4 linked regions of the Homo sapiens genome follow. The protein of the gene in region 3 purifies or fractionates together with the protein of the main gene of each other region. This does not show direct contact. Each region holds a gene or a part of one and is shown on either strand. Other genes may lie near its edges. The genes, in order: ITGA6, TOR1AIP2, CANT1 and LRIG1.

Evidence for each region.
Region 1: the proteins of CANT1 (region 3) and ITGA6 purify together in Homo sapiens (affinity purification with mass spectrometry; 3 studies listed by BioGRID and IntAct, with this or other methods). This does not show direct contact.
Region 2: the proteins of CANT1 (region 3) and TOR1AIP2 purify together in Homo sapiens (co-immunoprecipitation; 3 studies listed by BioGRID and IntAct, with this or other methods). This does not show direct contact.
Region 4: the proteins of CANT1 (region 3) and LRIG1 purify together in Homo sapiens (affinity purification with mass spectrometry; 3 studies listed by BioGRID and IntAct, with this or other methods). This does not show direct contact.

Annotation. Positions count from the first base shown.
Region 1 is NC_000002.12:172,471,834-172,479,790, reverse strand, and holds part of ITGA6 (integrin alpha-6 isoform b preproprotein), read right to left. Parts: intron 7,018-7,957; coding exon of another isoform or gene 6,901-7,017; intron 5,737-6,900; coding exon 5,526-5,736; intron 4,863-5,525; coding exon 4,669-4,862; intron 4,195-4,668; coding exon 4,106-4,194; intron 3,397-4,105; coding exon 3,278-3,396; intron 151-3,277; coding exon 52-150; intron 1-51. UniProt on the Homo sapiens protein: Integrin alpha-6/beta-1 (ITGA6:ITGB1) is a receptor for laminin on platelets. Integrin alpha-6/beta-1 (ITGA6:ITGB1) is present in oocytes and is involved in sperm-egg fusion.
Region 2 is NC_000001.11:179,867,314-179,875,270, forward strand, and holds part of TOR1AIP2 (torsin-1A-interacting protein 2), read right to left. Parts: intron 1,528-7,957; exon of another isoform or gene 1,495-1,527; intron 1-1,494. UniProt on the Homo sapiens protein: Required for endoplasmic reticulum integrity. Regulates the distribution of TOR1A between the endoplasmic reticulum and the nuclear envelope as well as induces TOR1A, TOR1B and TOR3A ATPase activity.
Region 3 is NC_000017.11:78,999,279-79,007,235, forward strand, and holds part of CANT1 (soluble calcium-activated nucleotidase 1), read right to left. Parts: intron 1-7,957.
Region 4 is NC_000003.12:66,378,793-66,386,749, forward strand, and holds the end of LRIG1 (leucine-rich repeats and immunoglobulin-like domains protein 1 isoform 1 precursor), read right to left. Parts: intron 7,510-7,957; coding exon 7,189-7,509; intron 5,481-7,188; coding exon 5,199-5,480; intron 4,610-5,198; coding exon 4,190-4,609; intron 3,607-4,189; coding exon 3,481-3,606; intron 2,840-3,480; coding exon 2,687-2,839; intron 2,070-2,686; coding exon 1,785-2,069; intron 1,698-1,784; coding exon 1,471-1,697; 3' UTR 5-1,470; downstream 1-4. UniProt on the Homo sapiens protein: Acts as a feedback negative regulator of signaling by receptor tyrosine kinases, through a mechanism that involves enhancement of receptor ubiquitination and accelerated intracellular degradation.

The sequences.
Region 1 (7,957 bases), on a different chromosome or scaffold from region 3:
AGTGGAGGTGGGAAACTGAGGGGGATCCCACCAAGACAGAGGGATGCTCACCATATCCCACTAGGCGCCCCACACGCTGTTTTCTGGCGGAGGTCAATTCTGTTAGGAGTTACTGTGATGGTTTTCTGAATATTAATCACAGGCCGGGATCTGAAGACAAAAGGAGTGAAAAACAAGCTCAGCCTCTGTTACCTTGAATGTGAGTCTAATTCACATACTAGAGAGCATCCTTAGCTGCCCAGCACAGCTTAAAAACACAGGAAAAAAAATACACGTGACGTTTTCCCCCATTGCTGAAGAAAATAACTGTTAATAGATATAAATGTATACAATGCAGAGCCTCATTATACAATATTTGTTTAAAAACGTACACACTTATGAGTACATGTGCAACATGTGGGGGTTAAAGTAAATATTTTGTCTCCATTCCCACCCGAACACCCAAGTAGCCTTGTATGTTCTTCCAGACACGTCAGTTAAAATTATCTAAAATTAAATATTAAAATATATGTATAATTTCAACTAAATGGGAACTTAATTGCCATTGTTCTGTATGTGGCTTTTTCTCATCCATTTCAGAGGTCTTGTCCTGTATATACACATAGATCTAGTTCACTGTTTTTCACACCTGATGGCGTTACACTGTATCAGTGTAACATCCTTTATTTAACCAGTACCTAATCGGTAGACATTCACGTTGTTGAGCTTTCTGCTTTCACAAACATCATCTGTGCACACACTTGAGTTTATCTGTGGGATAAATTCCCAGCAGCAGAATTTTGGAGTCAAAGAATATGTGCATTTTTAATTACGAGTAGTCTTGCCAACATACCCTCTGGAAGAATTACACCAACAAACACCTAATACCTGAGATGCTCATGATCAGCGTGTCTACAGTATGTGAATTAATACAGGCAATCCTGAACTTGGGAGTCTCCATTGTACAAACACTTGCCCTTCTCTTCAGCCTCCCTCGGAGTCTCCCACCCACAACCTTCAGTCTTTGCCTTCCTATTGCCAGGATTGACAACTTTTCTACCCCCACGATATCTCTGCAAGCAAAAACTTAAACTTTTAAACTTCTTCCCATCTCTGCGCTGCCTACTGCAACCCCGCAAACACTTGAGAAGCTGGAATCCAATTCCACGCCCTACTCTGGTTCACCATCTGAAAACATCTTTTCGTATGTTTTGGCTGCCCTGCTCCCAGCAGCCACAGGGGTCTCCACGGGTCTGTGGCCCAACTGCTGCCACAGGCACAAGAAATGCAGGTATGCGGTGGGTTGAGGGGTATGAGTGGGTGAGGAGGCCCACCTCCATTGCTCCCCACCAGAACTCAGAATGGGGCCTGGGGTTTCATTACCACGTGGATTCAGTTAGGCTGACTCTGATGGGCTTGTGGTAAACCCAGCCATTCTGGAGAACAGTGTTTCTACAAGAAAATGCATTCCAAATCCCAAACAGCTAGCTCGAACTTCTGGAATCAATCTGTTGGTAGGCTAGAGCACAAGTCCATTCACAGTGAAGGTAGGGTCCAATAAAGGGTCAAATACTGCCCACATTCCCTGTTTTTCCATTTTCCTTTATTGTTTACCATTCTATTTTTATTTTACATTTAGACAGCTGCTAGGTTCTAAGATACTAACTAGATACATTCTTAAGTTTTGAGAGCATATTTAAAAGGCACAGTTGCCACAGATATAGTATTTTACATACTGTAGAATTTTAACAGACATTTCTGCCTAGAACATATTTTGTTTTTTAAACATACAACACACAATTTTGAGGGCAAAATATACATGAATTATGAAAACTGTGTCTTTTAACATAGAAAATAAGTCTTATTAGTTTGGCTGCCTCATGTTTAAAATTGGTGTTTATTTACTAACTACCCTGAAGTGCTAGTACAATTTAGTAGAAAAAATGCACAGGATTCAAGTCAGGAAGATTTAGGTGCTACATTCTGTCCTCTCAGGCTCCAGCCTTAAAAGCTCAAGCCAAGTCCTGGGCCTCAGTTTCCTCATTTGTAAAATAAGGGGAAGTTACTCCTCTTCTTATCAAAGGGTTGTTGAATTCTACTTTCACACTATCTGCAAGTAAAGAGGGAACAAGTGTACAGGGTTGACAGTCAACCTACTTATGAGGACAGGAAAGTAAGGATATTAAAATATCAGTTACACATAGACAGGGGCAAACATTTAACTGACTAAAGTTAAGTCATCTATTGTATTGACAAGGAGAGATAGCCCAAGATTAAATAAAAACCAGATTAGACAGCAGAAGTTACAGTGTAGCCTTTTGATGATACCCTAAAAGTAGAGAAATGCACACAAGTTTTGTGGAAGATGGGAATAATGTACTGGATTTTCTATAATTCTATATTATTAACTTTAAAAAAAATAAATCTGCTACTTTTTGAAAATTAAAAAACAAACCAAAAAAAGCCTCCAATTTTTAATGGTGATTTCCAGCAGTGATGAAAGCGCTGGTTAAAGGGAGACTCAAACACCACGGATGGGAAATGTCGCACCATTTTGGGAGGTCATCTTGGCGAAACCGAATCAAAAGTCTTGAAGCACATATATCAATTTCACATCCAGGAATTTATAATAAGGAAATAATCAAGGATATAAACAAAAGTAAGAATGTTTTCCACAGCTTTTTATATCATGGGAGCAAAAAAAAAAATTGCGAAGCAACGTAACCATCCAGTGAGAGCAAGGCAGTTGGTTAAATAAGCTCTGAACCTGTCAGAAGATGCCTCACAGACAGTTGTTAACTTCATTTTGGAAAAGTACTCAGTGACATAGGAAAAGTCTACTATGTATCCTAAAGAGACAAAAGCAGGTTACAAAATTATGCACAATTATGGTCTTAATTTTGTTAAATATACATGGTCCAATCACAGAAAATAAAATAGAAATCAAGATCTTGGAGTTTAATAATGCATGGTGAATTATAGGGGGTTTCCTTCTGTATGTTCTTTGTACTGTCACATTTTATATGTGTTTTGTTTTTTTCATCATCAAAATTAAGGTTTTAAAAATATATGAAGTAAAAATTCTAACTTGGATCTATGTTTTCCTCAGATACTTTAAAAGATTTTAGAAAATAGGTTGTTATTACATTGTTTACTAACTTCAAAAGAAAAAGAAATAGCTTCACAATTCATATAAACCTTTGAAGTATAGGTATGACAAATTTCAGTCCAAAAGGTCAACATTTTAGTATAACCTGATTATAGAACATGCTTAACACTAAAATCATAGATAACAGACCTGAAAATAGTTACTGAATCTGAGAGGGAACCAACAGCAACATCAGGGTAGGAATTTCGATCAAGGTCCATGTTTCCAGCAATTGAATATCCAAAATAAGGTGATATACCCTTGAGAACCTGAAATACACAGGGCATCCGAATGGACATTAGGTTATCACCATGAGCTTCTTAACAATGCTTTGAAAAAGACACACAAGTTTCTTTTGAACTGAAATTTGAGAGTTCACTTATAAGTAAATTATATTATATACAAGTCATAAATTTCTATATGATCTAACACTTCATACATTTCATTTCATAAAAGTCATCCGATTTACATAGTATCTCAAAGCAGAAAAGAGCCCATTTCTGATGAGCTTGTTTATTGTATTAAGTCAATCAGGCCATTTCAAACCAAATCTCCCTACCTTCCCTACAAGTCTTATTTTTCTCAAAAGACATTTTTAATTTTTGGTGTCTACATTCTCCATGTAGTTACAGTCATTTATTTTGTTTGACCAATTTCATCTCTATTTAGTATGCTACTAAAGAGAATATATCGTATTTCCTCTTATCTTAATGCCGTCAGGGTAGAATAACATTCATTTGCTTTGGATTACCTTGATTCCTAACTTATCTAAGAAATTTTACAATTAGAACAAGCAAGTCATTACATTTATATATTTATTTTGAAGGTATCTTCTAGTAATACATTTTTAAAAAATTTATACTATTGTGGACTTGTAAATAAAATAAGATTTGTGTGAAAAGTCACTTAAACCTAAATATTTTATTATAGGGCAAAAAGTTGAGACTCTAGCTGTAGAAATCCCGGTTATTTGGTTACCTGTGTTGGTTTGGTATTTATTCCATTTGCAGATCCATGATAGATAAAAACCTTTCCCAAGTCATCATACGGAGCTCCAACTGCAATATCTGTTGACAACATCACATTTTAACATTTTAACAAACGCTTTAGAAACACTCTAGTAAAATGTTTTAAAGTAAGATGACACAAGCACTATTATTTATTTGTTTGGCTTTTTCGGGGTTTTTTTTTGTTTTTTTTGAGATGGAGTTTCGCTCCTGTTGCCCAGGCTGGAGTGCAATGGCGCAATCTTGGCTCACCGCAACCACTGCCTCCCGGGTTCAAGCAATTCTCCTGCCTCAGCTTTCCAAAGCTGGGAGTAGCTGGTATTACAGGCATGTGCCACCACACCCAGTTAATTTGTATTTTTAGTTTCTCCATGTTGGTCAGGCTGGTCTCGAACTCCCGACCTCAGGTGATCCGCCCACCTCAGCCTCCCAAAGTGCTGGGATTACAGGCGTGAGCCACTGTGCCCAGCAGCGCTATTATTTAAACAATCAAATAATCTATAAATCATAGCCATTTCATAATCTATTATCTACCTGGGTAGCCATCTTGATTAATATCTCCAATATTTTTTACTGCAATGCCAAACATAGAATCTTTGGTTCCATTAAGACGAATTGGCTTCACATTATTCCATCTGCCTTGCTGGTTCATGTAGACATACACTGCACCTCCAACTTCTCCATCTCTATCAAAATACTGTGGGGCTCCAATAACTATATCTTGCCACCTAAAAACATAATGAGGGGAAAGAGCCGTGAACCAACAGCTAACATACCAGCAACACCAGTCTAGGTACTAAGGATACAAAGACATATAATAGAAAGGCCCTCAACTCCAGAATTTATGACTCAATTATAACATTTTTTAAAAACCAAGGTAGCCTATAATAAACGCCCCAAGAAAAATACTAAGGGTAAGAACTCAAAGCCAATTTCTCGAGTTAGAACCATAGTACAGCAGGACTCCCATTAAGACCTCACTGTTCTAACCCCCCCAACTGGCACCAACAGCCACATATCTGTTTTTTACTTTATCACCAATTCCTGTTTTCAACGGGAGCTGATGCTCCATCAGCCCCATATGAAACCACAGAACAGAATCATGCAAGTGTTTTCTGAGTCAATTTTTTTCAAATTTTAATTCTCATAGACTCATGATCCCAACATATAAGTAAAAACTGAAAATCAAAAATATAATCCTATACGCTGGGGAGGGATATGAATGTCTGTCTGCTGCCATCATAGAAATGATAAAGATAGGCTGGTAAAAATGCGGCAATAAAAATATTCTTTACGTCAATGAACCTGAAAGGACGGCTCTTCTCCAGTCGTATAGAAGCTAGTCAAAGCAGAAATGATTTGCAGCATAATATAACCTGAGGCTTTCTCACCCATCCTTGTTGAGGTCCACCACCGCCACATCATAGCCAAATGAAGAGGCCAGACCTTCTCCATCGAATATGTGCTCAGGGAGGAGATGTGCAGACTTCATGTCTCTCTTCAGCAAAACCACGGCTCCACTGTGATTGGCTCTGGGAGCACCAGATACAAAAGTGATCTCATCTTTAGAAACAATACCTTTCCCTGAGTCCAAAGAAAAACCTAGAAAAACAAAATATATAGAGCCCCTCACATCAATCCATATATTTTAGGCCTATGACATTGGTAACTCCATCATTACCTCTTCCTCTGGCTTCCCACCCCTCTCTCCTCTTGACCCTCCCACCAGCTATCACATTCGTAATATGAGTGACAGAGTTCAGATGTGACACAAGGACAAAGTCCTGGGGCTAGCTAATTTACTGCTTTCTATGGATATTAAGACTTTTAACTAAAAGCACCTATGTATAACTTGAATTTTGAAGTATTCATACATCTTAAGAATCAATTTCCACCCTATTTTAATATTGGAACTATGGTAAAAGGAGATCAAGCTAGATACTGAATTGTCCAGGAATAATTTGGTTATGTTACATCATATACACAGAGAATATATAACCTGACTGGAAGCATAATTGAGTGCATGTTACAGGGTTCTGCTGTAATTTAATGACCAGTATTTTTACAGGAATAAAATAAAATTGAAGAAAAAGTAATTAAGCTTGGTAAGAGGCATCAACTCTTTGGTAATCAGACAAAAACAAATGCTAACATCATTAATACACCATAGATAGCATTTCATTGTTTTGGACCAACTTAGTTCTCAGACACAAACATGCAGACAAAACAATGACTGATGATACATGGTATTTGAGAACCTAGTATAAACAACAGAGGTGAGGAAGTTGTCATTGGTATCAGTTATATACTTGTTCAGAGGGCAGAAAACATTAGGACACACCCATTATAAAGCATCAGGTAGGATGTCAGATTACAAATAACAGATCTGGTGAAAAGCAAATAGAAGTGCCCATATCAAAACCATTCAAATTAAGTAAATGTTTCTATAGAAAGGTGAGGCAGATGCAGAATAATATAAGCTCACCCCCTTTATTGGGTTTTACTTATGAAAAGCTTCACCACTACCGTTGCAGTTCTCAAATTGTGAAGTGAATTGAAAAACATGAGCCACCAGATTAGAGGGCAATATGGAGTCCAGCTCTTACAACCATCTGGCCACAGAGCCCCAGCCATGGCATGCTTTTTGTGTGTGCTTCAATGGAAACAAAATAGGGCATAAAAAGATTTATGCTCTGTATGGATCAAAAAAAAAAATTTAATGACCACAACCAAGACAATTTATTTGTCGTCGCAGAGGTCACAAACCTAGGTAGCTATTCATCATCACATCAGGGAATGTGTCAGGCTGCTCCCGGGGAGGCCGTGTTTTATAAACAAACTGATCAGGATCTGTATAGGAAACGCTGGTCAAAAACAGCAGGCCTGTACGCATGCACGGGACGGAAGAAATTGAAGAAAAAGTAATTATGCTTGGTAAGAGGCAGGACAGCCACTGCTGTTCTCGCTGGATGAGGAGGCCACCACTGCATCCGGCAAGCTGCTCTCATTGCCAGCTTCCAAAACCTCAAGCAGATCGTTTTGTTCCCCCAAACCCTCTGATCTTTTGAAGTGACAGATTCCACACAGTACAGACAAACCGAATGTAACAATATGAATTTGATTTCTTTCTCAGGCATTCACTTTTGAGGAAATCCATTCTAAAAGTGGCAAATGTGTTTGAGAAAAAATGCTTCATATTTTCAAATGTTCTGACAGCAAGTAAATTTATAAAATCCACAGCCATCCATCTTAAAGACCAAAGTATTGGTTTCTTGGCCAGTGCAATTACAATCAAGTATTTTAATCATAAGTAATCCCTAAATGAAACATTCTGAGGTAAGGTCCTGCTCTGTTGCCCAGACTGGAGGGCAGTGCTGCAATCACAGCTTACTGCAACCTCAACCTCCCAGGCTCAAATGATTCTCCTACCTCAGGCTCCTGAGTAGCTGGGACTACAGATGTGTACCACCACGCCTGGCTAATATTTTTGTATTTTTAGTAGAGAAGGGGTTTTGCTGCATTGGCCAGGCTGGTCTTGAACTCCTGGCCTCAAGTAATCCGCCTGCCTCAGCCTCCCGAAGTGTTGGGATTATAGGCGTGAGCCACCAGGCCCGGCCTGAACAACTTATTAGTGCGTGTTTACTAGCACATTGCTTGAAATTATTCATGTATCTATACCTGTTTTTTCGTTTTTTACTTTCCATTCTTCCAGTAATATCCTAACATCTGGGTACTTTTCTTCACTTTCTTTTTTTTTTTTTAAACAGGTTACTATTTGGGTTTAGACTTTTTTTTACATTTTTTCCAAGAAATGCACAGTAAT
Region 2 (7,957 bases), on a different chromosome or scaffold from region 3:
TTCCTCAGGCAGAGTGGACAAAAGGCTTGGTTTCCGACTCAATGACTAGATACTTGGTGCTGATAGCACAGGGCATAATAGATTTCCCTGAGGGTCTGCTGACAAGAGCTACCAGTGAAAGCTTCAGCTACTGAATTAAATCTTGGGTCTCTAGTCATGGTACAGAGAGATGACGAATAAAACTCCCACAATGGTGGATAAACACAAAAGATAAAAAATTAAAAGTCTGACATTTAATTGATCAGATTTTACATTTTTAGAGTGAAATCAAGTAAATGCAACAAGATACTATTGTAGTGTCAGCAAGATACTATTTCACATCTACCACACTACAAAAACTGACAAAGGGGGTTCCACATACTATAGCAAAAACCACTCCTCCCAGAGGACTCTATTGGTAGGAGTCAAGAGAAAGCCCTAAAGCTCCAAGTGCTCAGAATAATTCCATCCATTCCCCAACCTTCAGTTTTACAACTTCAAGAATCAAACAAGCACTAGAATTCCAAGTATTCCTGCATCAAGAGAACTCCACCGTTCCATATGTTTCAGACAAGTCTTCCCTCCTCTCCTGGTCCTTTAAACCTCTGTAGGCAAGAGCCACCAGGGGGCCCCAGAACTCCAAATGCTCAAAATAATACCACCCATTACCAGCTTCCTCACTCATTCTTTAGCCTTAGAGCTACTGGATGAGTAGGAGTGAAGAGAGGGGCCTGGGAAAATGCTCCTGGCAAGATTCCTAACCCCTATCCCCACCCCAACACTCACAGCTTCAATACAGCTTCAATTATCTGCTTGAAAGCATCAGGACCAATCTCATACCTATATCTCTGTTCATGTCAATCACCACCTGAAACACAGGACTTCTTGGTTATATCCCATCCCCTTAGCCTCAAATCCCCCCATATGGCTCTATCAGCAATGCAATAACAAGTACTACTAGGCTTGCTTTATTTTTTTCACATAAAACAGGTACCATTTTGCTATATTATTTATTTTGGCTATTTTTCTCCACTAAAATATAAACTCCCTGAAAGCAGGACATTTTACCTTTCTATTTACTGCTATAGTGTCCAATAAATATTTCTGGAATGAATAAATGACAAAAATAAAATGTAACTTGAATTCTTATAGTCTAATGACAAGACTATAAATCTGTACAATCACTTTTGGAATTGGCATTACCTAGTAAAACTGAAGATGTGCATTTCCTATAACTCAGCAGTTGCACTCTTAGGCACATACCCTAGAGAAACTGCACCTGTACATTTAAAAACATGAATAAAAATATTCATGGTAGCACTGTGTAATAGCAAAATAACAGCCACAATGGCCACGAACGGGAGAATGAATAAATTAAGGTATTGCTGTACAATAGGATACTGTCATTCTAAACACAGATGAAACTCAAGAATGTTGAGCTTAAAAAAAAAATGCAAGTAGCACAAGGAAAAAAATAAACACATGCACACATTCTTATATAAACTTTCCACTTACATAAAGTTTCAAAAGGATATAAAATTAATGTGTTGTTTAGGGATATTTTTTTGAGACGGAGTTTCACTCTTGTTGCTCAGGCTGGAGGGCAATGGTGCAATCTTGGCTCACTGCAACCTCCGCCTCCTGAGTTCAAGTGATTCTCTTGCTTCAACCTCCCGAGTAGCTGGGATTACAGGTATGCACCACCATGCCCGGCTACTTTTGTATTTTTAGGAGAGACGGGGTTTCTCCATGTTGGTCAGGTTGGTCTTGAACTCCCAACCTCAGGTGATCTGCCCGCCTCAGCCTCCCAAAGTGCTGGTATTATAGGCATGAGCCACCACCCCAGCCCAACTGTGTATTTTTAGTAGAAACGGGGTTTCTCCATGTTGGTCAGGCTGGTCTCGAACTCCGAACCTCAGGTGATCCGCCCGCCTCAGCCTCCCAAAGTGCTGGGATTACAGGCGTAAGCCACCGTGCCCGGCTGCAATAAAGCTTTAAAAAAAAAAAAAGAAGTATTAAGTCCAAACCTGAGGATAATTATTACCTCTGATGGGAGAGGGAAGGGTGGGGGATGGAGGGCATTCAAAGAATTTCAAAGATAATTGTAATTTTGTTTTCTTTAACTGGGTGAAGGTACAAGAATACCCACTGTATCATAAATCCTAATAGCTTACAGCATCTCTATTCAATATTTTATAATGTTTAAAAGAGAAAGAGGTTAATAAGCAAAACCAAACTTTCACACTGTGGACAAGACCAGTAGCAGTTAATCTGCTCAGAGGCAAAGCAGGTAACTTACATTGGGATAAAGAAGAGCAATATAGAAGGATATGGATCTTTGTTTTCCTCACAAAATTTTAAGCAACCATCTCTTCATAGAAATAAGGTAAAAGAAGCCTACCTAATGGTTGTACAAAAGAGGGTTTATCTTAGCATACTCTCTGAAGGCATGAATTTCTGTGTAGGGAAGTTGCTATTTCACATGACGCCTTTGTACAAATTAGAAAAAGGCACAGTTCCTCCAAGCAATATACAACTCAGAAAACTTTATTTGGCAGGATATTAAACAGTATACAGTAACCCTCTGTCAGATAATAACACTTAGTAGCTAACACTTATGGAGTGCTATTTTCTGTTCTAAACACTTTATTCGTATTAACTCATTTAATCTGCTCACAAAGCCAAAGGATACTCTTCCACTATGAATAAATATTGGCGGTGGGAGAAATCACCCCTCATAATTTTTCACTTCCACACCAAAAAATACAGGATAAACTTCCAGGAGTCCTGAATCCTCTGAAATTACATGTAAAAATCTTTACGGCTGGGCACGGTGGTTTACGCCTGTAATCCCAGCACTTTGGGAGGCCAAGGCGGGTGGATCACGAGGTCAGGAGATGGAGACCATCCTGGCTAACACATGGTGAAACCCTGTCTCTACTAAAAATACAAAAAAATTAGCCAGCCGTGGTGGCGGGCGCCTGTAGTCCCAGCTACTCAGGAGGCTGAGGCAGGAGAATGGCGTGAACCCAGGAGGCGGAGCTTGCAGTGAGCCAAGATCGCGCCACTGCACTCCAGCCTGGGGGACAGAGTGAGACTCCATTTCCAAAAAAAAAAAAATTTTTTTTACATACACATGTGCATTTTTTTCCAAAAAGATGGTACATCCTTTTAAACTCCTAGAGGAATCTGAAATGATTCAGGACCATTAGGCACTATGGTTCCTAACCATTTTGCTATCAAAGGTAACTTTTTTCCAATCCCACCCCTCCTCCTCCATTTTGGAAAGATGTCCAAACAATCTGCAGTCTTGTAATAATTTCGTTTTCTCATTTTTAGTAATCGGATATGTAGATCTGCCAAACAGAAGTTCTAATAAAACAAAAAACTAATGCTACTAGCCTTGGTTTAAAAACTTCCATTATTTTAAATTAGACAAAATACTTTATATCCCTATAACACAGAGTTGGAAAGATCTGGATATCCTAAAACTGGCTTCCTTTCTCAACTTCATTAGCTTAAGTCCTAAGCAGCTGATTTAAGGTAAGTATATGACTATCATTAGGTTTTTAGAAATGCTAAATAAAAATACCTTGAGAACTACCATTACTTTATGATTGTTAAACATAATTGTTTCACTTATTTGAGGAGCGCACCATGTGCTAGGCCCAATGCCAAGTACTATGGATACAGAAAGAAAATCATTCAGGACTTCTAGATGTCTAGGGAATCCAGACTGGAACCAGTGATTTAGGTGAAGGCTAAGGGCTCTTAGAGGGATATAAAAAGATCCCCTGTAGGCTAAGGGCTCTTAGAGGGATATAAAAAGATCCCCTGTAGAGATCACAGGAAATTTAGGGAGGCCCACAGCAAAAGCTGGGATGCTTGTATTTTCAAACCTCCTTCACTAAAAACAGTGAGCAAAAAAACAAAATTTGAGGAGCTTCTCTACTGCACAAATGCTATACAAAAGAAAATACAAATCAGGGGTTTTGTGTATGTAAACTAAAATAAATTTAAGATCCTTCCTGAAACTTTATTAAAAGAAAATTTAGAAAAGAAAATAGTACTTTCACACCAAAATAGAAAATGTAGTTCTATTTAATCCACTGAAATTTACATCAACTAACCATGGCAACTTTTTAATTAACTTCTCTAAATAGTCTATCTTGTTCTTTGCTATTTCCTGAATGTATGTTAGTAAGTTCAAATCTGCCTTCAATAGATAAAAATTCCCTTATTCTTTTTTGTGGTAGCATAATAATTAAGTTTCAGACTGAGTCTGGATTGGAATGACTTTTCCAGGCAATTTATCCCTTAGACTTCAGCCTCAACCAATTCCTCATATGATACATAAAATCAAGATAGGCACATAGAAAAAGTATAAATGCTTTAAACTCTCTTGAATTCCCATTTTAAATATTTTCTTCTAGGGGGTACTACAGTCAAGGCTAATCAATAATCATAACTTTTTTTGTATGAGATGGTTTCTCCAATAAGTTTCATACACAAAGTGAAATCTTAAGAGTTTCCTATTTCACAACTACCTTAGATAATGAGAGATTAAGGAGTATGAAAAAAGGAATCATTCTTCTTTTTGAATTCATATAATCTAAAATAATTTTTTGTTGAAAATAAAATGCTCCTGGAAAAAAGTCAACTTGTTTTGTGAGAAACTACTTTTAATTTGGCAATCTTGAGATCACTGAGAGAAGGCATATGGATGACAATCTTCAGTACTATTTAGTACACACACTGTTCCCTCTTTAGAACAGAGAAGCCAAATAAAAAATATTACCCAAGGTTAGAAAATAGCTGCAGAATGTTCTCCTCTCTCTTGCCCCAGGAACTGACAAACGAAACAGGTGTGTATGCATTGCTACCATACTTTTTGAGGGGCATGGCCATAAAGGAGAACAACTGGTTTGGAAACCTACTGGTACATTTCTATCTATGTTGCTCTAATGCTCCAAAAGCCCATGGTCCAAATTCTGTCTACAATTTCACTTCAAAACACCAGCAGCCAAACCTTTAAGGCTAATACACAACTTTCAACAGTCAGATCTGGTGCCAAGCTTAGGTATTTCTATAACTTGTGCTAGCTATTTATTGTCTGTCTAAAACTAAATTTCTAAGTCTTGCCCACTCCTCTGTACCATATCCACTGTCATAATATCCCAGCATTATTATTTTCACAATTTTTCGTTTCTCTGTATTTTCACTAACTGGTGACTTATTCTAGATTTTTGAAAGAAGTTTGAAAAAGTACTAGCCTCGGAACAAAAAGCACTCTACTTCCTTAGGGAATTGTTTTTTACACAGGAATTGAATGCCTGGCGCAGATCAAATTCTACAGATATTTTCTGAGTGCAGAAAGCCTTCCTTTCCTACTTACCCTTTTTCATACTCCCTCCCAACTCCTTTGACTTGTATCTCTAGTTTCGGTTGACCACGTAGAGGTATTAAGCTATGCACGAAGGATCTAAGAGTTTGCTAAGATTTCTGACAGTGGGTGGCACAACTGACTGCCAGGTTTAGTTCAACTTCCCTAATCACTTTTAGTATCTACTTCAAGTCAACATATTTTTATTAAACTTTTTATTTTGAACTAATTTTAGACTTACAGAAAAGTTGCAAAAATAGCACACAGTTCCATTATATCCTTCATCTAGCATCTTACATAATTAAAGCATAGTTATCGAAAACAAGAAATCAACATTGGCACAATTCAATTAACTAGAGGCCATATTCAGATTTCACGATTTCTTTTAGTTGTTATTTTTCCTTAGTGTCTAGTCTATGACAGTTCCTCAGTCTTTACCTGTCATTTGTGACCCTTTCTTGTCTTTGTGACCTTGACACTTTTGAAGAATACTGGTCAGTTATTTTGGGTTCGGTGTTTTTTGTTTTTAAAAATAGACACGTGGTCTTGCTATGTTGCCTAGGCTGGTCTCGAACTCCTGGGCTCAAGCGATCCTCTTGCCTTGGCTTCCCAAAATGCTGGGATTACAGACATGAGCCTCTGCACCTGACCTGGCCAGTTATTTTGTAGAATGTTCCTCAGTTTAGAGTTTTACAATATTTTATCATGATTAGAAAGATAAAAAGATTATGCATTTTTGGCAAGAATAACAAACGTCACAGAAATGCCGCTGTGTCCTTCTCACTGCCTCTTTGGGTTCATGATGTCCTTGTCTCATTACTGGTGATGTTAACCTTGATCACTTTGTTAACATAGTACCTCCACTGTCGGATTACTATTTTTTCTTTGTAGTTAATAATTATCCTGGGAGAGATACTTTGAGACTATGTAAATATTCTGATTTTCCTCTAACTGGATTTTGTCTGCAACAACTACTATGGTACTGTTTCCCTAATGGTGGTTTTGTATTTCCTTCTTTCCTTCTATGTTTATTAAATGGAATTCTTCTGTTAGAGTTGTCCCTTCTCCCCTACTTATTTATTCACTCAGCAATATCAGTATGAACTCATTTTATTTTATGGGTTAAAGTCCAATACTATCATTATTCATTTTATTGCTCAAATTGTTCCAACCTGGATACCAGGAACTCCTTCAAGTTGGCTCTTGGGTCCTTTCGACAAGGTCCCTAACTTTTTGTAGCATTTCCTTACTTTCAAGCACCATAAGATTTTTCAGGCTCATCTTGTATTTTCTCTGCTCCCGCACTAAATCAGCCACTTCTCTAAAAAGTCCTAGTTCCTTTAAAAACCAAGATCTGAATGCTCAGTGCTACTGGGGTATAACTATCAAGTCAACAATATGGACAACAAGTGTTTGTTTCCTTACTATATTAAACTCACTAGCTGGGAATCACTAGCATTACCTGGGAGCTTGCTAAAAGTACAAATTCAGGCCCCAACCTAGACCCACTAGACCAGAATCTCTGAGAGCCTCCTACAGGAATTTATGTTTTAACAGATTTGCCAGATGACTCTGGTGTTCACTATAAAGTAGCTGGGTGTGGCAGTGTGTGCCTGCAGTCTCAGTTATTTGGGAGACTGAGGTGGGAGGATCGCTTGAGCTCAGGAGTTCAAGTTTGCAGTAAGCCATGATAGTGCCACTATACTCCAGCCTGGGCAACACAGCAAGTCCTTGTCTCAAAAGAAAAAGAAAAGAAAAAATAGTTATAAAGTACCTTTATACAGTACTTCAAAATATACTGTAGTCAGGTATGGTGGCTCATGCCTATAATCCCAGCCTTTTAGGAGGTTCAGGCAGGAGAGGACTGCTTGAGCCCAACGGTTCAGAGACCAGCCTAGGCAACATATCGAGACCTTGTTCATACAAAAAATACAAAAATTAGTCAGGTATGGTGGTGTGTGCCTGTAGTCTCAGCTACTTGGAAGGCTGAGGTAGGAGGATCACTTGAGACTGGGAGGTCAAGGATGCAGTGAGCCGTGATTGTGCCACTGCACTCCAGCCTGGATAAGAGAGAGAGATCCTATCTCAAAAAAGAAACAAACAAAAAACTGTAAATACTGTTACTTTTATACAAAGAAAGTTATAAGTCAGCCTCCAGGATCAAGTCCAATCTACAAATATGACCTAACATCCATAAAGCAAATCTACAAATATAGAACCCAATATAGCACTATCCTCTAAGGTCAGACTGCCTAGACCTGAATGACTGCTCCAGCTTCTGACTTGGTGTTTCTCTCTCTCTCTCTATGCCCTTGGTTTTCTTTGTTTTTTGTTTTGTTTTTGAGATGGAGTCTCGCTCTGTCGCCCAGGCTGGAGTGCAATGGCGCGTACTCAGCTCACTGTAACCTCCGCCTCCCAGGTTCAAATGATTCTCCTGCCTCAAGCCTCCCGAGAAGCTGGGATTACAGGTGCCCGCCACCACGCCCAGCTAATTTCTTTGTATTTTTAGTAGGGACAGGGTTTCACCATGTTGGCCAGGTTGGTCTCAAACTCCTGACCTCAAGTGATCCACCCACCTTGGCCTCCCAAAGTGCT
Region 3 (7,957 bases):
CAGGACCCCCTGAGGTGGTCACAGGGCTGATCACCGGGGCCTTCCCGGCAGCAGGGCTGGGGTTCCCCGTGCTGGACATCCTCCTCTGACTGCATCCAGGCCCTGCCCCTTTTCTAGTCCCAAGGCCTCAAAACCCCAGCCAGGCCCAAGAAGTCTCCACTGAGCTCGAATTACTCTATCTTACCTGCTATGCCAATCCCGCCTACATTTCTTTTTTTGTTTTTCTGAGATAGGGCCTCGCTCTGTTGCCCAGGCAACAGTGATCACGCTCACTGCAGCCTCAACCTCTGAGGCTCAAGCGATCCTCCCACCTCAGCCTCCCAAGTAGCTGGGACTACAGGCGTGTGCCACCACGCACAGCGAATTTTTTTTTTTTTTTTTTTTTTTTTTTGGAGACAGAGTTTTCCTCTTATTGCCTAGGCTGGAGTGCAATGGCACGATCTCGGCTCACTGCAACCTCCGCCTCCTGGGTTCAAGTGATTCTCCTGCCTCAGATTCCCTAGTAGCTGGGATTACAGGCATGCACCACCACGCCCGTCTAATTTTGTATTTTTAGTAGAGATGCAGTTTCTCCATGTTGGTCAGGCTGGTCTTGAACTCCTGACCTCAGGTGATCCACCTGCCTTGGCCTCCCAAAGTGCCAGGATTACAGGTGTGAGCCAACACACCTGGGGCACAGCTAATTTTTAATTTTTTTTATAGAGATGAGGCCTCGTTATATTGTCCAGGCCAGTCTTGAACTCCTGGGCTCAAGTGATCCTCCTGCCTCAGCCTCCCAAAGTGCTGGGATCACAGGTGCGAGCACCCGCACCCCCCCTTACCTGCATTTCTGACATGCGTCTTAGACATTTCAAGACACGAGTCCTGTGCAGCTTTTCCCTCAAGCCTACTTGCTCCTCGTCTCCCCTTGGGAAGGGTAGTGGTGACGGGTGGCCACCGTGTCCACAGTGGTCTGGTTCAAGCTCTCTCAGGATCCTGGGAGATGTGCTTTTCTGTGTGAATATACACTTCGATAAAAACATAAGGCACTGCCACCACGAAAAACCTGACTGGCCTCATCCTCCGTCTTCCTTCCTCAGCATTGACTCCGTGGACAGGTTCTGTCCTCTTCCATGGCCCTTCCTCACCATGCCATGCCGGCTGCCTCCCTCCACCCCTCCTGCCTCTCCGCCCCTGACACTCCCATACCCCCCGCCATGAAGTTGCCCTGCCAGCTGCCCCCCACCAACATCCCCTGACACTCCCTCGCCACCTGCCATGAAGTAGCATCCATCAGATGGCACACTCCCAGCTTCAGCGGCTTCCTCAGGTCCTGGGGTGAACCCACTCTGCTCCCGCTCAGCCCTCACACTGTACCATCTCCTCTGCCTGCCGGCTGGCTACATAGACCTCCTTCTGTCCCCTGACCACACTGGCCCTGGCAGAGCCTGCAGTTCCCCCTGCCTGGAACAGTCGGGCCTGCTCTTCGCACCAGCAGCTCGGTCTCTCCTACGGGGCATCAGCTCCCTGGGAAGACTTGCCCACTCGCCCTCCCTCCCATGCCGCTCCGGCTCTCCCACCGTCCCTGCCTGGCTAGGTGATTATTTCTGCTCCTGGGGCAGGGATCTGGCCACTGTCACAGCCCCAGCACCTGACGCACTGCCAGGCAGGGAGCAGACAGTCTGCACGCATTGGCTGAAGGGAAAGAGATGCCAGGTGAGCCATTAGCCACTTCTTCAACAGCCCCTCTGCACTCTACCGGGGGCCCCACCTTAGGCATATTATGAACCCACAACCTGGATCAAGCACCCCAAAGATCGAGCTGCTCAGCTGCCACATCTGAGCTGCAGGCCCGGGAAGACGGTGCTTGCCAGCACAGAACAACGGTGCCTGCATAGACTGCTGTCAGACATCGTGAGGTGTCGTCGTCACCAGCCCCTGGAACCCCCATGTTCTTCCCTGTTCAACTCCCTCAGCACTCCGGAGAGCCACTGTCCTCACCTTCACCATTCCTGTCAAATCTCCGGCCCACTTCTCCCAGGAGACCACTCTGTGGCCAACTTCAGCAGCCGAGGCCCCTGGGTGGGGCTCACACCTGCCACTCAGGTCAGTCCCCCCAGCCGCCGGGCACCTGCTCTTCTGGTTCCTCCCTTCCATCCACAGGCTGCCCCAAGTCGCCCACCTTGTCACCATTTTACCTCCAGACCCCACACTCCCACAGACACTCAACTGCTGCTGAATAAATGGCGAATCTGTTAATGAAGGAAAACCCTTCCCTGAGTCCCCGGCACCTCTGTCCCTTCCCACCCCCGCCCAGGCCCCCTCGCCCACCATGGTACAAGAGCACCCACACCTACACCCTCTCCTTCCCTCTGGCTAATCCTCAGAAGCAGCCACCTGAAGCCTTCACCAGTGGCAAACCCAGTGAGCACATTGTCAGTGTCCCTCCTCGAGGCAGGGGGGCACTCTCTGTGGGCCTCCTCCCAGGCAGGTCTTCTCGGCCCCCACTGCTGGCAGCCCACTGACCTCTCCCAGGGCCTGCCCTCTAAGGTGAAGACCCCCACGCCTTTCTAGCCTGACCTAGTCTCTGAGCCTCCTCATCCGATACCCACAGGCACCGCAAACCAGGTCCTCCTCAGGAACTCCCTGTCCTGGCAGTGCCGGCCCTCAGGAGCCATCCCAGGAAGCAATTCGTCCTAACCCTCCTCCCTCCCCAGCCCCACGTGTCCCACCCAGCTTGAGACTCGCTTCCCTTCTCCCCATCCACACAGCCTCGGCTCCAGTTCCATCTCACCCTGATGACTCTCAGAGTCTTGGTCTAATGATCTAGACCAAGCTTGTCCAACATGTGGTCCAACACAAATTCGTAAACTTTCTTAAAACATGATGAGATGAGATTTTTTGTTAAGCTCATCAGCTATCAATGGATTTTATGTGTGGCCCAAGACAATTCTTCTTCCAATGTGGCCCAGGGAAGCCAAAAGATTGGACACCCCTGATATAGACCATCTGGGCTCAGCCAAGGGACTTCCCTTGGCCTCAGTTTACTTCCCGGAGCCATGCTGATGGGGTTAGAGAACTGTGCACAGGGGCTGACTGCTACTGCTTCTCACTCACTCTACAAGTACCCTCTCGCCTGCTGGGAGGGTTGCAAACTACCACCCGTGGGCCAAATGCAGTCTCCCGCCTAGTGTGTAGATGCGGCCTGTGTGGCCTGGTATGTGGTTGCAGCTTGGTGTGTAGACTCTGCCTGGTGTGTAGACGCGGCCTGCGTAGACGCGGCCTGCTGTGTAGTCACGTCCTGGTGTGTAGATGTGGCTGATTAAAGCCAGCTAGGACTCCTCCCTGGCATGCTGAGTCTGGCTGCACCGTTGAGTGGTCGCAACAGACTGTGGAGGCTGAAAATACTGACTCCCTGTCCCTCGACAGATCCCTGGTCAAGACCATCTCAAATCACCCTCCACAAAACTGACAGAATAATTTTTCCAAAAAGCAAGTCTGGATTCCAAGTCTAGTAGATCCCAATGCCTTCCATCTGAAGGACAAACGTCTCAGCCTGCAGAGAAAGCCTCAGTGGGTTTTTCCCCCTGCACTCCCAGGAGCAGGACCTCTCCCAGGTCGCTGTGCAACACTGCACGCCTTCCTATTCCAGACTCCTGGCATCTACACCGTGGCACACGCTCCCCACCCGGGAGGCTCATGTCCTCTGACCACATGGAACCAGAGGTGTCTGAGTCCCGGCGTCTCTGCCCCTCTGGGGAATCAGTGTGACGGAGGCAGGGGCCTTTCCTCCAGGAGCTCAGCACAGTTGGGGAGACAGACTTTGAACAGTCCCGTGTGGTCAGTGTTACCTCGAGGTCACGCTGATTCCCCAGAGCTAACAGAGGGGCAGAGACGCCAGGGCCTCAGCCACCTTTGGTTAAACAAGGGACTGCTTCTAGTGACAAGAGAACTCTGTGTACCTTCCAGAAAATTCCTTTAACTTCAGCACCAGAACACCTTCCCTTGGGCTTCATCTCTCCTTCAGGACCCCAAGGAATTATTTTATTTTGCAAAAAAATTTCAAATCAGATGCCTTTGCCACAGCCCATGCTGGTGTATGAGCTACCACTGGCTGCCGGGGTGCCTGGCTGCCGGCGCCTGCTGCAGGCAAGAGTTTGCATGTTCTTTAAAAAGCTGGGTTCTTTTTCGGGGGTGGGGGGTGGGGGGGCTCTTTTGTTTGTTGCCAGCCAGAAACAACAGAAATGAACCGGCGAGGGTAAGACACAAGATGGACAAAGTCCTTTCCAGAAGGGGCTCGTGTGAGGCTTCTCCCTACACCCCTCAAAGCTTAAGCAGTTTAAATGCTCGCTTTATTGTGAAAAGATTGACAAACCCAGTGCCTGCAGAGTAATGGTTTGATTTTAGATAATCAGCAACAAGAGGACTCAGGGACTACAGCAAAGTCATGGGTTCTGTGGCCAGCCAGGCTCTCCTGTTCAGTGGGGCTGCAAACCAGCTATCTCCCAGACTCAGGGGCCTACAGGGACAGGACCCCTGCTGCTGCCTGGAGAGCACTCACAGGAGCACTCACAGGAGGAATAACCACCTGCAAGGCTTGCAAGGCACCACGGAGGCATCTGTCCATCCCACAGGACACTCCCAGAGCGCAGGGGAGCCACCAGTGAGGGAGCTGGGAGTTAGGGAGCGGGGAGTTAGGGAGTAGGGAGTTGGGGGGGAGTTAGGGAGGGGGGAATTGGGGAGGGGAGTTAGGAAGAGGGGAGTTAGGGAGAGGGGAGTTAGTGAGTGGGGAGTTAGGGAGGGGGAGTTAGGGAGAGGGGAGTTAGGGAGGGGAGTTAGGGAGGGGAGTTAGGGAGAGGGGAGTTAGGGAGAGGAGTTGGGGGGGAGTTAGGGAGGGGTGTTAGGGAGAGGGGGGTTAGGGAGAGGGGAGTTAGGGAGAGGGAGGTTAGGGAGGGGAGTTAGGGAGAGGAGAGTTAGGGAGAGGGGAGCTAGGGAGAGGACAGTTAGGGAGAGGAGTTAGGGAGGGGGGAGTTAGGGAGGGGAGTTAGGGAGAGGGGAGTTAGGGAGAGGGAGGTTAGGGAGGGGAGTTAGGGAGAGGGGGGTTAGGGAGAGGGGGGTTAGGGAGAAGGGAGTTAGGGAGGGGAGTTAGGGAGAGGGGAGTTAGGGAGGGGGGAGTTAGGGAGAGGAGTTAAGGAGAGGGGAGTTAGGGAGGGGAGTTAGGGAGAGGGGAGTTAGGGAGGGGGGAGTTAGGGAGAGGGGGGTTAGGGAGAAGGGAGTTAGGGAGGGGAGTTAGGGAGAGGGGAGTTAGGGAGGGGGGAGTTAGGGAGAGGAGTTAAGGAGAGGGGAGTTAGGGAGGGGAGTTAGGGAGAGGGGAGTTAGGGAGAGGGGAGCTGGGGGGGAGTTATGGAGCAAGGAGTTAGGGAGGGGGGAGTTAGGGAGATGGGAGTTAGGGAGAGGGGGGTTAGGGAGAGGGGAGTTAGGGAGGGGAGTTAGGGAGAAGGGAGTTAGGGAGAGGGGAGCTAGGGAGAGGGGGGTTAGGGAAGGGGGAGTTAGGGAGGGGAGTTAGGGAGGGGAGTTAGGGAGAGGGGATTTAGGGAGGGGGGAGTTAGGGAGAGGAGTTAAGGAGAGGGGAGTTAGGGAGGGGAGTTAGGGAGAGGGGAGCTGGGGGGGAGTTATGGAGCAAGGAGTTAGGGAGGGGGGAGTTAGGGAGATGGGAGTTAGGGAGAGGGGGGTTAGGGAGAGGGGAGTTAGGGAGGGGAGTTAGGGAGAAGGGAGTTAGGGAGAGGGGAGCTAGGGAGAGGGGGGTTAGGGAAGGGGGAGTTAGGGAGGGGAGTTAGGGAGAGGGGGGTTAGGGAGAAGGGAGTTAGGGAGAGGGGATTTAGGGAGGGGGGAGTTAGGGAGAGGAGTTAAGGAGAGGGGAGTTAGGGAAGGGAGTTAGGGAGAGGGGAGTTAGGGAGAAGGGAGTTAGGGAGGGGGGAGTTAGGGAGGTGAGAGTTAAAGAGCGAGGAGTTAGGGAGCGGGGAGTTAGGGAAACTGTGCTTTTCTCTGTGCACACCCAGGAGGCGTCTCCCTGCTGCTGCCCTTTCCCAGGAGAAGGGCTCAGGGGCCACCTACCTCCCGAGGCCATCCCCAGGCCTGCCGCTGCACTCTGAGCAAGGCTATAATGAAGGGAGTGGCGACTCCCTGGACAGCAGACAGCCAAGAGGGTTTGTTTCTCCAGCTTCCTGCAGGAGTGGAATAGGACAGGTGGCAGAACCAGCAGGTTTACTGAGGGCTGCCAGGCTCCTCCCTTTCAGGATCCAGGCAGGGCAGGAAGCCACATCATCCTGTTAAGAGGCCGCCACATCCTAGCCCCCACCTCCTTGGAAGGGACGGGTAGGCAGGTGGCAGGTGCGCCAACCCCTTATCTCTGGAGAAGAGCTACCTTCCTTTCCCTTCCCACACCCAGAGAGCAGGCAGGCAGGCCTCAGAGTGCCCACTGTGTTCACTGCCATGGTAAAGAGCAAACCCCACTGACCTACAGACTCTTCAGCACAGCCAAGGCAGAAGCCAAGGCCTTCACACACTCATGCTAACAGCGCCTGAGAGAACACGGGTGGCGCATCTCAAAGAAACACTTATTAATGCCTGCTATGGGCCAGACTCCTTGAAAACGTTACCTGATTCCTGCTTTGGCACTTGCAAGGCTAACTATTGTACCTGCAAATTCCACGGCAAATCTCCTCGGGGGTGGGCAGTACAAGGAAACCAGAAAGGAAGAAGGTCACAGGGAGTCTGGTTAGGCCATCCTGCCTCCACAGACAGCACGCTCCTTAAAGGTCAAGCTCAGGATCTGACTGACTTCTGCACCTGTCCCCGCCCCTAGTATCCAGCACACGGCAGGCAGCAGGCACCGTCCTGTGGGACAGAAGCCTCACACGGGCCATGGCTCCATTCTCATGCCTCTTCCAGCTTCTGGAGGCACCCACATTCCCTGCCTGGTGGCCCCTCCTCCCCCTCCAAAGCCCGCCCACTGCACTTCCCCAAGGCTCTTGGCCATCATCTCCCTCCGGCTCTTCTGCTTCCCTCTTCTGTTCTTAAGGACCCTGTGATTACACTGGGCTCCCTGGGAAAATCCAGGATCATCTCACTACTTTAAGGCCGGCTGATCAGCAACCTTAATTCCCCTTTGCCATGTAATGTAACATATTCACAGGCTCAGAAGGTAGGACGTGGACATCTCGGGGAGCTGTTCCTCCACCAATCACAGGAGGAAGAGGGGAAAGAGCCTCCAGGTTTTTCCAAGGGCCAGGACCAGTCACTGTCTATGGTGTGGGCGCACAGCTTCAGAACCCTCTACGGTTTGCAGTTACTGCCTTGTAAAGAGGCTGTGTCTGCTTAATTTGTATCATCGATGTTACACCTGGAGGAATTTTAGCCAAAAGGCGACCTTCTCAGTTGAAAGGCACATTCCAAATGGCACCACACATCTGGGAAGGTGTCCTTTTCCAGAGTGTGTGAAAATAACGGGATGGGATCATCGCCCCATGGACCTGGATCAGGGCTGCCTTCCACACCGCGGTGGCACCTGCACGAGCCCACCTGCTTACTGCCACCTTCTCTCCTCACGCTTTCCTCCAGGCTCGGCTCCCGGGACACAAAGGCCGAATCGCCAGGACTTTCACTCAACCCGGCAACACCCTCAGAGCCATTCTGGGGGGTCCCAGTCTCACCTCTGCCCCACTCCCACATGGTGGCATCACGCACTGTCTTAAGTCTTAAGCCAGACTTCAACGCCTTCTTCACTTCCCATAAAACCATCCCAGAGGAACGCGGGGAGCAGCGTCCTGCCTGGGAACCAGGCGCTCCACATGACCACTGCACGCATGACAAAGACGAGCAGGGTCCAAAACAAAAAACAGAACGTCTCCCCAAACAGACTTCTCTACTGCCAGGATGATTTTTTCCTAATTAACCATCTTGATTAAAGTAAAAGGAA
Region 4 (7,957 bases), on a different chromosome or scaffold from region 3:
ATACTGACATTTATAAATGAACCTTTATTAAAGACACTTCAATGCCATTTGTTAGACACTTCAATATTTTACATGGTTTTCAATGTACACTGTACCAAAATTTCTATAAATAAATAACTTTGTACATAAAAGTAATACTCCCTCTTTCACATTGCCTCTCAGAAGCAGCAAATTCACATATTTTGTGGAAGTAAGATTAGTCAGTTAACTGTCAAGAACAAAATTCTAAATGTGCTTACCTTTTGAACAGTGATGACACCTGACAGTAATTGTTAACTATTTTCTCAGTAACTCCCTTCAGCTTTTGGCCAAAGGAACATTTGAAGGACCTTGTTTCTATTTAAGTTTTACTAAATGACACATTGGCACTCATAAGATGGTTAGCTACCAGTCTCAAAAGTGCAAATTATACCCAGAACCCAGGTCAAGGGCTGTCCTTTCCAGTCCCAGCTCAGTTTCATCTGTGCGAAGGAATGGCATGGACAGGCCTGCTCTGGGTCCTTAGTAGAAATAAGGTAGCCCTGAAAAGTCAGAACTTCCTCCTTTCTGTCCCCCAAGGCCAATGTAATACTCATTATATTGGCAAAACGAAAACATCAGTATAGAAAAATCCACAGGTACCAACACCAGCAGCCTTTACCTTAATTTAAAAGTCTCAAATAGCAATCGAATGATACTGAGAAGGCCACATTTGCTTTTATCATAAAATAAGAGGAGGAGGAAAGGCAGTGTTTAACTGTTCTGACCTTTTGCTTGTGATGGATTAACAACCCTCATTCTACGCCTTACAGACGGACAGATTCTACGCCTTACAGACAGACAGGACTTAAACCTAAAAGGAAAAGCCATTCACTGCAAGTGTGGATGGCACTTGCACCCCTGGCTCTACAGACAGGGAAGCCTGTTGCAGGGGCATCCACACATGAGCAGTGCTCACCTGAAGCTCCTTCCGGCGCATGTGGAGTCCCACCGCACAGCAGCCTAGGGGTCTATGAAGTGCAATATAAATCCAAGGCCTTCCATCCTTCCCACCCCGCACCAAAAACTCCTGTGAACAAATGTGGTTGTAGCCTCTATAAATTCCAGCCATGCGTTAAGGCACCAGAACTATTTCCCCACCCCCTCCAAAATTAAACAGCAACCTGATACGAAAAATAATATTGTCAAAATTGTATAATTTTTTTCTGTTAACCATGCACTAAAGATTAAAATAGCCTCTGTAAAAGATATATATGAAATCTCTGAAAACTCTTATGTACAATGATATCAAATACTTTTTTTGCCTTTTGTACACAAATCCCCTCTTGCGTTTACTGTGCTTCAGATCCAAGTCCTGTGAGCGACTGATACTCCACATGGGAGTTACAACTATGTACAGATGAGTGACGCTTGAACCCAAGCTTCCTCGCAGCCTCTCCTACCTCTCTTTCCCGTAGAGATTGGTATGACAAGAACTGAGGTAGACAAAACCTAGCTTTTTGGTGCCAACAGCAGTGGCACCCTCTGTTTCCCGGGGAGCTGTCCTGTCAGTGGCGTGGACTCGGGACTGGCGTCACATGCTTTGGGGAGGTGGCCATTGGAAACAAGCAAGTACTGGGCTTCCGCGCGCTCTGGACTGCCTGAAGTTAATGAAGATGCAGGCTGTAGCTCTGTGGAGTCCGGGTGATACAACCTTGCTAAAGTCCAGGAAGAATCCCCTACAAGGAAAGAACGAACCTGTCAGACCCCCACTTGACCGTTTAAGCAGCTCCCAACCCACCTGTTAGAAGACAGTCAAAAGTTACCTTTCCCATCTAGAGATGCCATTGGCTTTTTCTTCACAGCCGTCAGCATTCTATCGTGGTTACTGGGGTAGAGCGACCCTTGGCACTCGGGGCAGGACCCAGCGGCAGTCCTGCTGCACTGGTGATGTGGAGAATGCTCTTGGTCACTCCCACCCGGCTCCGGGCCATTTGGCGCACTTGGCTGTGCGCTGTCTCTGGACACAGGCTGGGGGTGGAAGGCTTGTCCCCTGGAGTAACAGTCCACTTCGGTGTTGCAGTCACTGCATACGACCCGGCCACCGTGTTCTGAAGGACAGCGCCAAAGATGGGTTAGAGTCACTGCTGTGGGAGTCTTCGTCCCCACACAGAGGACAGGCTGCTCAGCTCCACTGTGCAAGGTGAGAACCCTGACTGCAAACACTGTATGCATGCTTCCTCTTTTCCCCAACTATGTCCCCAGAGAAAGGACTGGGCAAACACCAAGTCACTCATGAACTGTGGGGTCTTTCGTGTTTACAGTGAATTTCATAGACAATGTAGTCTTACTGCTTCACGGGGGAAAAGCCATTAGCCTTAGGTACCATGCAGTGTTGGGTCTTTTCAACAATTAGAAATAAGCCTCAAAATAGCCCTGGTGAAAAAGTGCTGACTGAAACTCTATACTTCGTTTGTGCCTTGCCCCTTATTTAAGTTGCTTATACATCTAGAAAATTCATGCTCAGGCTTACCATGGCGTAGATTTATTTAGGAGAAACTATCCTGGAATTAAGAGAGCCAGGCCTGAGCTTCCCCTGTATATACTGAATACCAAATTTGGAGACAGCTGTGGACTAGGAATGTGTCTCCCCCTTTGATGTAGTGACTAGGTCAGCCCAAATTTCCATTTCAGAAAGAAACTACTTCCAATGGGAAGCATCTCATACCCATCTTATGTGGCCCAGGTGTCCCTTCAGCTTTCTCCATCGCTTTCCACGGCTCTTTGTGATACGCAGACCCAGCACAGAGCTTTGGCTGCCTGCAGGCAACGCTGTGAGTGTCGGGCTCTGGAAAGTGGCTTGCATCTCTTGGACACACACCTGCAAGTGGATTCCAACACGATTAGAAACTCTGGGCTTGGTATTTCACAGTAAGCCTTATGAAAGGAATGAGCAAGGCCGCTAGAACAGTCATTTTTTTTAAAAAGTTCTTCAGAGCGGTGGGGCTGCTGGTCTGGCAAGCAGCGTGTTTTCTGCTACTACTTCCCAGCAGGCAGGCTGGCCTTGTGAAATGAGCAGCTGTCTCAGGGTGAGCCTCTACAGTCTCAGGCAAGTGCTCAGAGGCCCCCACCGTTGGAAGTACCTCATCCTGGTGACAGCTTTCCAGTGTAAGACTGGATCACAGAGCAGACCTGGGCACGTTCCCCATGTAAGGAATGGGTTGGCTGGGTTCATGCACCGTAATGCCCTTTCCAGCTGCTACTCCAGGCAAGCCTACTTTATCCTGCCAGGGAGATGCTAAGCCCAATCCAGTGGCTTCCTGAGGGGACAGGACTTTAAAACCTTGCAGAACTCATGAAGACTGGGTCCAAAATAGCAGCCCTTAGTCATACCGCCTTCTACTTCACCAAGTTTGCCCCATCTAATGCCAGGTACCTGCCCTGTAAAGACCTGGAGGCCACCTCCAGCACCCAGAGACACAGTCACAGCAGAGCTCTGCTTCACAGTTACTGAGGCCTTACCATTGCTCTCAATGTGCCCATTGGCCTGAGGGCCACCCTCGGTCCTGACCACGGTTTCTTGTCGGTCAGAAAGGGTCCCCTGAGAAGAGAGGTAGCTTGGAACATCTGGTGGCACGACGGTTTCATCTGCAAGGAGACAGAACAAATAGAACACCAGGGTCTCAGTGACAAGAAATGCAGACACACGTTCACTGTCAAGCTCAGAAAGGGGATCCTCCCAGTGACGACCATCAGCGCTGTGCAGAGAGATGACATGGAGTCCATGTACGCAACAGGCCCTCCCAGAGCCTGCTCAGCTTTACTCTACACCCAGCGTGAAGAGCGCAGCCAGCAGATGCCAGACGCCACAAGAAGTGGAGACCAGTGATGGAAAGCCGGGGCTCACAGAAGTACCGCACTGTTTCAGGAACAACCTACTACGTGGCAGCAGGGCCTGTGCATAGGCGGCCTCTGAGTTAGCAAGGAGAGGGAAAACTGCATGGTGCGTCAGTTACTTGTATTTGTGAGTATTCCTGTTTAAGGTTAAATTTGAGAGTATTCCTGTTTAAGGTTAAGTTCCTCAAAGTTAAAATGGAATTAGTGGGACTAAACCCTCAGGAGTTCTGAACACAGTGCAATTCTTTCAAAAGCCACTGGAACCCGGCCCAGTTCCCCAGCATCACTGCCATTCCTCCCTCCTTGAAAGTCAGCTCCGCTGGCAGGGCCTGACCTGTGTTGGTGACACTGTACTCTTCACTCTTCTTCCTGGTCTGGTAGATGATGCACACCCAGACCAGTGACGTCAGGACGATGCTGCTCACGACAGCAATGGTGAAGATGCCTACCGTGGTCCCATCCTTCCTGCAGCCTGCTGCGGGCAGGACGCTCAGCTGGCTGTGAGCTCGCTCCGTGCCCAGGGTGTTGGACATCTCACAGGTATATCGGCCCGCATCCTCTGCCACCACGTTCTGAACCACCAGGAGCTGGTTGTCAGGGGTCAAGTGGTGCCGCTCAGTGAGGCTCAGCGGGCGGTCCCCCTTGAACCAGGTGATGCGGGGCGGAGGGTTCCCCGTGGCTTTGCATTGGAGGGCCACTGTTTCTCCCACAGATACCACACGGTCTTCCAAGGGGACCACCAAGGATGGGGTCTCTACAAGAGAGCAACAGAGATCTTAGTCATTCTCAGGGCCTCCGTTGCTCTGGCTCTGCCCGGTCTTCTGGACAACGGACAATCCAACATATCAATGAGATGCATCTGAGATTCTGTCTCAGAGTGGCAAGCTTTGGAGAAGACCCTTCAACTCATTGACTGAGTCATCTCCATGCTGGGAGTGGCTTCCACAGGGACAGTGAACCTCTGCTGACAAAAGCCCCTGCTATTCCCTAACTGTCCTGTGTCAGGCCTGTGTCCTTATTCTTGACCAAGCCCACATCCATCCTGTCCAATTCTTAAAATGTTCTGTAGCTCTTGACCAAGCCCACATCCATCCTGTCCAATTCTTAAAATGTTCTGTAGCTAAACCCTATGAAGACTCTTAATTCACCAGCTATCATTTCTTTTAAAGAGATAGAAACACTTGTTTAAGAAAAATTAACTCAACTCAAAAAGCAGCCCCAAATTTCAAACAGGGTCGAAAGGCCCACAACGCATACCACCCCTGGCCACACAGAGCATTTGAGAGTCTCTCTCTCTCGCTCACACACACACACACACACACACAGTAGAGCAATAGGCAAACCTAGGACAGTCAGGGTGGCATTAGCTGAAATAGAACCGGCTGAGTTCTGAGCAGTACAGCTGTAAACCCCTGCGTCATCTATTTTCACATCAGTGATGAAAAACACGTCGTCATCCGGCATGACATGCATGCGTCGCTCACGGGCAGCGGGGAAATCCGTGCCTCCATCCTTCTGCCAGGCAATCTGAGGGTTTGGGTGACCTGTGGCAGCACATTCGAGGCGGGCCATGGTGGTGGTCCGGATGGTTATGTCGTGGGGCGTTTTGGTGAATGATGGCAACACTGGAAAACATACGTATACAGGGTCGGGTTACGGGACAGCTAGATGCAAAACCAGGAAGTCCTCTGGCAAACACCTACCTGTCACTGTGCCCAGTGCCAGTTCACTTCTTTTCTCCCAATGTCTGCCCAGGACCACTCCTGCCACCTGTGAATCAGGAACCCCCAGCTTCTCCCACCACAGTTGGAACACTTCCATCCCATCAGCCTTGCATTGTACACCCTAGGCTGGCTATAGTCCCTTCAAAGCAAAGGCTTTTACTCTACATGGCAGTGCCTATACGGGAGTTGCAGGGGGTGCCCATCCACACTAGGTAGGCCTGATGCTTGCCTGCTTTACCCACCAAGAGAGAGGCTGTGGAGATGGAATTACAGAGGGAAGGTGGGCATGCCTCCACCTTGGGAGAGCAATGGGATGGCTCATCCGTTTGGATGGGTGTTCATGGGATGAATGGGATGGCTCATCCATTTGGATGGTTGTTCACCCAGGCTGTTCCTGCCCACTGCCGTATACCCAGGCAGGAAGCATTCAGCTTGCTAGCTTGCTCAGCCTAAAGATCGATGTCCTGACAGAGTGGGACGCATCCAGCCACGTGTCAGGCACCACCAGAGTTCCTGTCAACGTCAATTTTGGGGAGAGTCTAACAAACAGCTGAGTCTTTCGGAAGCTGTGAGGACTTGGAATAAGCCAAGACAACCCCACTACAGTGTGGTAAAGAAGGTGTTTCGCTGTGATCTGTGGGGGCTTAAAGAGCAAAGCAGATCCACCATTCTGATGATTCTCAAGCCAATTCTTTTTAACTAGAGAGTTAGTAATCAGGATAACCCCATTAGGTTACTGGGGTGGGACAGTAAACTCTTCAAGCTATCTACTCCCCACCCCCCTCCTCCAAACACACAATAACACATGGTCCCCTTGACAAGCTCCAAGGCTGGTTAATGAGTAAAAACCTGTCAACTGCCAGGACACTGTGTCTTTCAGGCCAGGGCTCACACCAGCCTTGCACTCCACAGTCTCTGGAGCAGTAGCTAGCCTCTGACTCCAATGCTGTGCCATCTACTCAAAGAACAGCAGCTTCCCCAGGCTAAGGGGTATTTGGAATTTGGAAGCCAGATCTCTTGGCTTATAGAGGATAAGAACTGGACAAAACAAGGCTTAGCTCTCCACAATTTGACTTAATAACTAGTTTTTGTTTTGTTTTTGAGACAGTCTCACTTTGACACCCAGGCTGGAATGCAGTGGAGTGATCTCGGCTCACTGCAACGTCCACCTCCTGGGTTCAAGCAATTCTTGTGCCTCAGCCTCCCAAGTAGCTGGGATTACAGGCATGTGCCACCACACCTGGCTAATTTTTGTATTTTTAGTAGAGACGGGGTTTCACTATGTTGGCCACACTAGTCTCGAACTCCTGGCTTCAAGTGATCTGCCCACCTCAGTCTCCCAACTGCTGGGATTACAGGCATGAGCCACAGCACCCGGCCAATAACTAGATTTTTAAAACTCACCAAAAACAAGTAACTCATTGTGAATAACCCTTGAAATCTGCAAAACTTGCTCTGGGGCAAACCCAGGCAACAATAGGATTTAACAGTGCCCCACAGAAGCATGTGTGTGTCCTGTCTCAGTCATCTCTACATGGAAAGCTGAAAGGGCAATCAGGAGTGTGCTTTGTAGGATTCTGGTACTATAACAAAGATGGTGTTTCCATACCATTCACGGTGAGCCTGGCCTTATGTGAATAGGTGGAGCCAAAGTGGTTGGTGATGACACATTGGTAGCGGCCCTCGTGCCCGAAAGTGACCTGACGGAGGTGCAGGATGGTGGTGTACTCCATCACTTCCCCGTCCTGCGCGTGGACGTGGACAAAGTTCTCCATGTCTGCATTGGTCAGGACTTCATTGTCTTTCTTCCAGGCAAAGGTCATGGGGGAGCTGCTGCTGCTGGCTGCTGAGCATGTAAACCGGATGTCCTTGCCCACCATAGCCATGGTGGTTTCTGGCTGGGTGATGATCTGTGGCTTCAGGAAGTCATCTGGGGAGAGAAGGGTCAACTGTAAAGCGCTGGGTTCTTGGTACACAGAGGAACCAGCTGCTGTTCATGCTAACAGAAACTGACACAGACACCAAGCAGGAACCAGAGCTTGAGGTCCCTGTGCATCCTCAGCCCCACCAACCAGATGCCGTAAGAGTTGCACCATGGACATCTGACCTCATCTAATTAGAAGTCTGTGAGTACTGATCACCTTTATGATCACACTCCTTGATTAGAAATTAACCCACCACTTCTCAGTTCTCAAACCAGCCAGCCGGCAGTTTCCTTAAGACAACTGGCTCTGCCTGCTGACTTTCACACAAAACAGTCAGGCACCACTGGTCATGACTGCAGAGATCTTACCCACAAACCTTACTCCAAAAGGAGGGGGTGTAAAACACTTCCAAAATGTCAGAATAAGGACCTCCAAAAATCTGCACCTCCATTA